Regions from separate parts of the Homo sapiens genome. Here region 1 is linked to region 2. Evidence: fine-mapped expression QTL. A gene starts in region 2. The other region holds a variant in brackets. All regions are shown on one strand. Distances are from middle to middle. Region 1 has its middle 42 kb from the start of EDAR. Region 2 holds the start of EDAR (ectodysplasin A receptor).

Region 1 (4,387 bases), 43 kb before region 2:
AGACTGGGCTCCCATCTTCTCAGCTACAGCACCTGATTAAAGCCTTCTTCCTTGGCAATACTTGTCATCTCTGTGATTGGCTTTCTGTGCAGGGAGCGGCAGGACCTAGACAGAACCTGGGTGTTTCGGCAACACCACCTGCCTCTGCTTCCGAGGGCACACTCAAAAAGGAGGGGACTGGGCCCGTGCATTCACCTCAGTGTCTCTGTTTCACAAAAGGAGTCGTGGAAATCAGAATAATCAAAATCTCAGCTCACAGAAATGAGCGAGGCTGAATGCAAAATTAAAGTGGACAGGGCCCATCAACAGCCTGAAAGGGGCTTTGTTATTCCTTCCTAGGGAAGTCATCACCTCTCAGAGAAGTGTCTGGCTGAGTAATGACCAAACATGAAAGGTCTCTGTCCACTCAAGGCATGGATCATACTAAGGCCTGGTGATCAGTTTAAAGGAAATGTATTTCCCATGGCTGATGTCCACAACGTTCAGCTTCCAAGGGTTCAGGAAGGACTTATATTTCACCCTGCCATGACATGGGTCAAATATGAGGCCTCTTTGAAAATCCAGGGAAAATTAGCTCCTGGTGACATAGGATGCACTTCTTAGCTCCTAGTTGCCCATCTGGAGTTCTCTGTTAGGCCCACAGAATCAGCAAACTCTGTGTGGAATTAGGCGATTGCTCCTCAGTAGTGGCAGTGCAACCGGAGGGAAATTATTGTTCCATTCTGACTTGTGAGTTCCTATAAATCTTAGCTTTAAATCAAATGCTCTGTGAGTTGCTACAGGAGTTTCATTTAACCCACCAGCCTGTGCAAGAGGTGAGAGGTGGCCCGACTGTGAAATCCCAGAAGACACATCTAGTTGGCCAAGGCCTCTGCTCTCAGCTGGAGGAAAGACTCCCCCACCCCACCCCATGGGGAGGGGAGAAAGCGCATGGATGGAGTGGGATGAAGAATGGAGAGTGAGGAGAAAGCCCTTCCATGGTGTAAAAGTCAGGGCATCCGCTGAAGCCTCTCACACATTCGACCGATGTCACCCCAAGGAGCAGTTTCACCAGACAGGGTGCTGAGTCTAGCACAGCATCTGTTTGCAGACGGTGCTTGAAAGGACTGAGGTTGGGTCCTGGAGTTCTAAAGTTCTAACCCTTTTCTTCTGTCTTATTTCACCTTCCTGCAAAACAAAGAGGGGGTGGGGAGGGACAAAAAAAATCGCTATGCAGAAGTTCACTCCGGAAAATGCCCTGAAATAAAATCAACAAGATTGATGTGCAGGCAGACAGGTAATAACTTTAGAAGTGAAAGAAATCTCCAAAGATCTATGACATTTTTAACAAAACAGGGGGAAGGTGGGCAGCGCTCAAAACTGCAGAGCGGTAATTACACCCACAGGAAGTCTCTAATGAACTTGAAAACAAAGCTCCGAAGAAAGGGAAAGAAGATAACTGCAGAGTTCTGTTTACGTAACCGTAGGGGGTTTGAACACCAAGAACTTACAGCTCCTGAAACGCGGTGAGGAAATGGGAGGGAGGGCAGCGAGCGTTCAGAGTTTTGGCAAAAGGTCAAAGAGAGTGAACGGATGTGGGGGGAGGGGAAGAAGGTGGCGGGGGGTGGGTGGTAGCGCTCACGGGACAAGAAATTGAGCAAACAGAAAAGCTTAGTTGCTGAAGAAAATACTTAGAGGAAGGAGGGTTCTCTTCGCTGGGGGCAAAGTGGGGCAGCTTTATCCCGCCTGTGGCCCGGAGGTAGGCGTTGGCGCAGGTCTCGCCGGCGCCCGCAGCGCGTCCAGGTTGCCACCGGCAGAGCCCGGCCCACGTGGCCGACGCTGAAGCGGCGCTCTCCGTTCCTCCAGCGGGCGCTTCCCGGCCGAGCTGCAGGGGGTGCACACAGCAGAACTTCACTGCGCCCTCCTCGCCGCACGTGGGGCCAGGCCGTGCGCTAGAGACCCGCGGACTCGGTGCAGCCCGGCGAGGCGGGCAGAGCCGACTGCTGGGTCTGAGCGCGCATCCCCTGCTGCTACTGATTGAAGCCCAGTCCCCGGTGCAACAGTAGTAAGAGGGGGCCTCCAGGGAAGTGATTCCGTCGTAAGGGGAACGGGGCTGATAACCTTATAAGAAGGCTGGAGGAAGCTGTTTCCTCCCTTC[C/T]GCTCCTTCTGCAGAGCGTTCCCGTCTCTACCCCACCCCTGCCACATCAGAGCCCCCATCTGTGCTGAGTCAGCCAGCACCCATCAAGAAGCCCCCATCTGTGAGGAACAGGCCCCCCTCACTGCTGACACCTTGATGGTGGACTTCCAGCCTCCAGCACGGTGAAAAGGAAATGGCTATTTATAAATTACTCTCTAAGGTGTTTTGTTGTAGCAGCAGGAATGGACTTAGGGACCCGGAGTTCTTACCATTGCCCAATCACAATACCCTTAGACTCCAGCATCTCCACACATGGCGTCCCCTCGTGGAGCGCTCCGTGTCTTACCATGAGTCAGTGAGACAAAAGGTGCAGATGACACTGATGGTGGTATACATGCACACTGTGTTAGTCTGTGTACTAGTTATGAGTATATATACCAATTATTAAACCATTTTACCAAGAAAATAAAGACTTGGGAGATGTTAAAAAACTGCCAAAGTCGGGTGTGGTGCACCTGTGGTCCCAGCTACTCTGGAGGCCGAGGCAGAAGGACTGCTTGAGCCCAGGAGTTCAAGACCAGCCTGGGCAACATAGTGAGACCTAGAAAACAAACAAACAACAACAACAACAACAAAAACTGTCAAGAGACAGAACCTGGATAAGAAGTGGGTTATATAAACCAAAGTGGTCCAAAAATTCAGATGCCTGAGGGGCCCCAAGCTGGTCCTAGGTACTCAGGAAAGTACAATTCTAGAAGGAGCCTTCTGCTTAACAGCCTGCTGGTCATCCTCAAAGAGGCCACCACTCCCCACTCCTTCTCAGGGAGCCTCATCCCATCAGACAGTGAGGCCCATTCTTTCATTCATTCAGGTCATATTTACTGTCTATCCAGAATGCACCAGGCACTGTGCTAGGTGCTACTATACACATTATCACATTTGGCAGGGTATGGCACACCTCTTCATTTAAAAATAACCTTTCCAATGACATTAACAATGGGCTTTACTTACGTGAAATTCACTTAAAATAGAATTCTAAGGAATTTTACGTAGCATACCATAATTTGGCTAGAGGAGAAGGCTGGGTCTTCAGTGGGAAAATGTTGAAGGTAAAGCACTTGAGCGCATGGCCTGCTGGGGAGAGTGCTGAGCCAGCTGGCTGTGCAGGGGAGGATTGAGGAAAAGGCTGAAAATGAAGGCTGAGGATCAGTTTCATGAGCTCTCGAATCCAGGTTGATTTGAAACTGTTCTTTGCATAGGCAGAACATTCTGAGGTAGCAAACAAAAGTTAGAGTCAAAGAATTCTTTCTAAAGAATGATGTCAAGGAGGCAGTAAATCTAAGACTCACCCACACACTCGAACTGGCACTCAGTAAATGCTTACTGAATGAATGAATCAATCAATCCATCAATACAGAGATAGCAACCAGGATCCTTGTCAAGTCAAGAGGGTTATTAGTATAGTATTTCTTTAAAATAAACAGCCTTATCTGTGAGCAAAATAAGAGGCTGCCCCTGAAGGCTAAGGATGTCTGCATCCATTTGAGAGAAACAGCCTTTCATTGTGCAATGATTAGGCTTAAGTTGCTGGCAAGGCTGGAGACAAGGATAGAGATGAAAGGCTGGATGATGGCTGCCGGGGGGCCCTGTCCTGCAGCTGTTCCAGCCAGGAAAGGAGAGGGGAACAGAGGAGACAGCACAGGCAGCAGGCAGGCATCCCAGGCCGAGGAAGGAGGGAGGGCTCCCCAGGGTCACCCTGCTCTACTTTTGGAGCCTGATGCTGTAAAGTTTGCCCGGCAGGGACACACATGCTGCAGAATCTCCTCTTTCCCCTCATTGAGAGGACCAGGTTTTCCCTTGGAAACGGACAGACACACACTGAGCTGCTGCTTCCCAGGAGGGCTGAGGCACCCTTCAATAACTTCAGGCATCAGTGTCAGCCACATCATGGTTTCCCACCTCCAGATTCCCATGCCTTCCTTACCCTAATGAAGTTTCTCCCATTTACACATGGTCCCTCATCATCCCTCTCCTGGATGCTTTACTAGCTTTATGGAAGGAACTTGGAGGAGTGGCCAAGGCAGAACCCAGCAGCTGCGGCCATGGGGGTGAATGGGGGCTGGGATGGGGAGGGACTCCATAGACTCAGTGTTGACATGAAGGAGGAAAGGGCCCAGGTGTCCTATTAACAGTAATAACAATAATCTTGCCTTAAACCTTATTTATTTATTTATTTATTTTATTTATTTTTGTAGTTTAGAATGAGGTGAG
Region 2 (4,387 bases):
CACCTAAAATAATCCCAAACCTCAAACACACTGTGAGCACACCAGAAAGTAAAAATTATATGGAGTAGAACAGATTAGCCCAGAATACCTCCCATTCATTTTCCCAGGTTCCTAATTTAATAATTTCAGTGACTTTAATTTATCACAGACCCTCAGTCTGAACTCGGCATGAGCAGGGTAGACAACCAAACCTGAAAATTCAAGTTAAAATTCTTGTTTGGGAGCTTATATTATCTAGATTAATCATCCACAAGGATCAAGTCAGCTAAGTAACTCTGGTTCAGCTTAATCTCTGTGGAGGCAGAATTAGTCCTTTACAGTCTAGGTCCTTGCCCCAGCCCCATACATTTCTGTCTGCTTTTTTCTTTTCTTTTCTTTTCTGTTTTGAGACAGATTCTCGCTCTGTTGCCCAGGCTGGAGTGCAGTGGCACAATCTCGGCTCACTGCAACTTCCATCTCCTGGGTTCGAACAATTCTCCTGCTTTAGCCTCCACACATGCCACCACCGGCTAATTTTTGTATATTTTTTTTTTTTTTTTTTTTTGAGACGGAGTCTCGCTCTGTCACCCAGGCCGGACTGCGGACTGCAGTGGCGCAATCTCGGCTCACTGCAAGCTCCGCTTCCCGGGTTCACGCCATTCTCCTGCCTCAGCCTCCCGAGTAGCTGGGACTACAGGCGCCCGCCACCACGCCCGGCTAATTTTTTGTATTTTTAGTAGAGACGGGGTTTCACCTTGTTAGCCAGGATGGTCTCGATCTCCTGACCTCATGATCCACCCGCCTCGGCCTCCCAAAGTGCTGGGATTACAGGCGTGAGCCACCGCGCCCGGCCTAATTTTTGTATTTTTAGTAGGGACGGAGTTTCACCATGTTGGCCAGGCTGATCCCAAACTCCTGACCTCAAGTGATCTGCCCGCCTCAGCCTCCAAAGTGCTGGGGTTACAGGTGTGAGCCACGGAGCCCAGACTGTTTCTTTCTTAAGCTCTTACTTTCTCATGTGTGAGTTACCTTGTAGGTTTCCAAGGCAGAGGGGACAAGATGGAAAAGGAGAACACAGAAATCTAGCCTGGAGGAGCTGCTCTGTTCCTGTATTTATCTGTGTAGGTGTGAATGAGGGAGAAAATGACAAGAGAATGACATTATTTTAAGGCTGTTTTCCCCCCCCCAATCATTTACTTTTTGAGAAATAATTGCCCAATACTGAAAGGTATGTCCTTTCAAAATGTTGATGTTTCAAATGGCTTCCTAATTACCTAGTTATACGGGGGGTGTGTATGGTTATCTGAAGTTACATGGGTATACACTGGTGGTGTGAGGTGTCCAGAGAGAGGAAAGGAAGAGCAGTCCTGGTGGCTCAAACCCTGAGGGATGTGCGGGGGATGGGTGAGAATGTGAACAGACATGTTGGAAGCTGAATCCGTGCAGTGGCACCCATGCCTGTAGCCATCTCAGTGGGGGGTCCTTCTACGAACAAGCTTTGATTAATGATATTTTAATGCTAGTTTAGCTTTTTAGCACTCCCACGCCTAAAGGCTCTGATAGAAGCAAGGCCCCCACCCCTGCAAAAAAAAAAATCCATGATTTTTACGCATTCCAACAGATCTCTTAAGGGGCAGACGGCCGGAGAGCCAGGTGTGCCAGGGACCTATGGCAGCAGGGCTGAACGTGCCCGCTCCAGCCTCTCCAGTGCTGGGAGAGACCTCTAGATGGTGCAGGTGAGTTTGCAATGAGGGAAAGCCCCTCGGCAAGGACTGAGTTTCCAAACTTGCAGACAGGGCAGGGAGCGGTCAAGGAAGAGTTCCCGGGAAGCCCTTTAAACGGAAAGGAAGCGGGGCTAGTGTCAGAGAGGTGTGCCAGGTCCCAGGCAGCCCTGCTGGCCCCTAAGGACATAGAGTACCTGCTTCTGAGAGGGCTGCCACGGTGGCCACCTGTGAAGCCTGTCACCCAGAACTGGATGGTACCTGACTTTCTTCATAGACCCATCTTCTGCTGGGACTGAAGCTGACCTCCAACAGAAGCCAGGTAAGCCCTGGTCCTTTCCTCTGGTTTTCTAAACTCTTCAGCTGTGGCCGAGACGGAGGTGTCATGGGCTGGGAGAGAGGCTGGGTGCATTTTTGAAATGCATGTCATTTTTGGGTTGCGTTTGAACAAGCTTTACCGATTGCAGTATGTCTGCGCTACCAGTTCTAAGACCTGAGATTGTTCCTTTGTTTTAGAAAAACATCAGAAACCCTGTTTTGCTGTTGGTTGCACATTTGGTTAGGGAGACAAATTCTGTGTGTGCTTCACAGGCTTTAAGATTTGGGCTACTGAAGCAACGGGTTCCTCCAGGGAGCGTGAAAAGTATGTTTCTCAGGTTTGCCCCTGTGCCCGGCTCACTGGGGAAGGCAGGCGCGGCAGGGACTCTAGCTGGGCTCTGTACCTGCCTCCAACTCTGCGTACCCGCTGTGACCTAAGAGACCTTCCAAGTGGGGTTTCCAGTCGTGTCTGAGACCCCCCATATCCTGGCCTCTGTGTTGGTGGCGGGGGAGCGGGGAGAGGGAGAGAAGGAGGGGAGTGGGTACCTATTTGTGATGATTGAGGTTTTCATTTCCAGCCAAGAGGTTCCTCTCAACACTCTGACAGACCGTGGGGTGGGTTGGGCTCCTAGACAGGAGTCGGCTCTGATTCAGTCGGCTCTGATTCCCAGCCTCCTGCAGCAGCCAAGCTTTGAGATGTCAGCTCAGGGAGAAGCGGGTGGCTGGGCAGGGAGGTCAGCAGGCGAGGTTCCCACTGGGTTTCCCTGCCCATGTTGTGCTGGGTCAGCAACAAGAGGGACAGTTAAAATCAACAAGCAGGGCAGATGCCGGTCAGTGGGCAATCCCACACAGCCAGGGGTACACGCATGTGAGGAGACGTACGGAGAGACAGGAGCACCACCGTCCTCTTCCCCAGTCCCCAGGCCACTGCTCTGTGGCTCTCAAGTGGCATTTTTGAGACACTTTCTAAGCAAGAGTGAAAGTGTAACAAAGAAGTGAAGAGCCATAATAGACTGAAGGAAAAAAGGGATCCAGGCATCTAAAATAGAGAATGTTTCTTGCCTGGCTTAATACTCTGAGATTTGTAAGTCATAGCCACTTAAAACCTTTAAAGATACATTTTGACAGAGGCCACCAAAAAGAGAGTGACTCTGGTCAAGGCTTGGAAATAAGCGTTCGTTCCGATGACAGTCCACGTGTACCCTTCACGGCTGGGAAAGTTTGGCGATCCTGGTGGCGATTGGCCGGGGGTCTCCACTGTACCCCTCCCCATCCCTAAGTGGGCCAGGCTGTGCTGTGGGAGGATTAATTTGTGACAGCACAGTTGGAGGATAATCTTGGAAGGACCAGTCTTTGGGAGGAAAAAGTAAATACACTTTCCCTGAAATGCTTGATTTTCACTCCCTGGCCACTACCTGGTTTCTTGCTTTTGTGAGCTGGACTTTCATTTTGTTGGGCATACACATTTGTGAAGCACAGACATGTCAGGGGCTCATCTTTGTTTCTCAGGCATCATGGTACCCTCTTGCCTAGCCCAGTGCCTGCCATTGGGCGGCAGCCCAACATTGCTCCGGAGTGCAGACAGACCTGGTCTTACCCCATCTCACGGAGCGCAAAACCTACTTGCCTCTGTTAAATGGGGAGCCTCTTCTAGTCAAAGTTCCTCAGGTCTCATAGGCCCACAGATGGAAGCTGGGTTACCTGACGCTCCTTTCTGGGTCCAAGTGAGTGCGTTTTGTGGTTTCCAAAGAATAGAATTTATTCTCAAGGAAATGCCCAGGAACCCAGCTTCAAAGACTCAAGCAAATCTGAAATTCAAATACAGGAGCTGTAAACAGGATGGTGTTTGGCAGACAGCCTTGCTGCTTAAGTGGCTCAGCCCCTCAGCTGGGCTCAGTTTCCCCTCACCCTCCTCCTAGCCTGCCTAGTGACTGCCTGCATGCCTCAATTATCCTGGATGACACCTGCCTGCTCGTTCCTTTGATGCTGTTTGAGGCTCTGCCTAGGTATTCCACCCACCAATAGTATCATTAATTAACTTACATTAAGCCCACTTAGCACATTAGATCAATTAGGGGACAAAAGCCCCAGCCAGCCTTTCCTGTGAGTATGCCGCCTCCATCTCAATGCCTACGATTCTGTCCTTACTGAATTCGTATATTGCAGGAAGGAATTTTTTTTAAGTCCCAAAGATTACTATTTTCCTAAAAAATAAAGCAAGGAAACATAAGCTGATGTCTAATCATTTAACCTCTGCTGTACATTTCTATGGCACTTTACAAAGCGTTGTCATGAATGTCTTCTCTATTTTCCCAATAAGGAAATTGAGGCTCAGAGAGGTTCACTGTCTTGCCCGAAGTCCCACAGCT

The links. PIP is the estimated chance that this variant, and not a neighbour inherited with it, causes the effect.
Region 1: its variant is fine-mapped to the expression of EDAR in whole blood (TOPMed, PIP 0.97).

Annotation. Positions count from the first base shown.
Region 1 is chr2:109,029,110-109,033,496 of GRCh38, reverse strand. It overlaps a transcript of RANBP2 not described here. Among named protein-coding and RNA genes, the nearest start is that of EDAR, 42 kb to the right of the region's middle. The variant C/T (reference allele first, on the strand shown) is at 2,138.
Region 2 is chr2:108,986,595-108,990,981 of GRCh38, reverse strand. EDAR (ectodysplasin A receptor) reads left to right here and starts at 1,762. Exons shown (of 12, transcript NM_022336.4): 1 at 1,762-2,022. It also overlaps a transcript of RANBP2 not described here. RefSeq lists an enhancer at 2,788-3,289.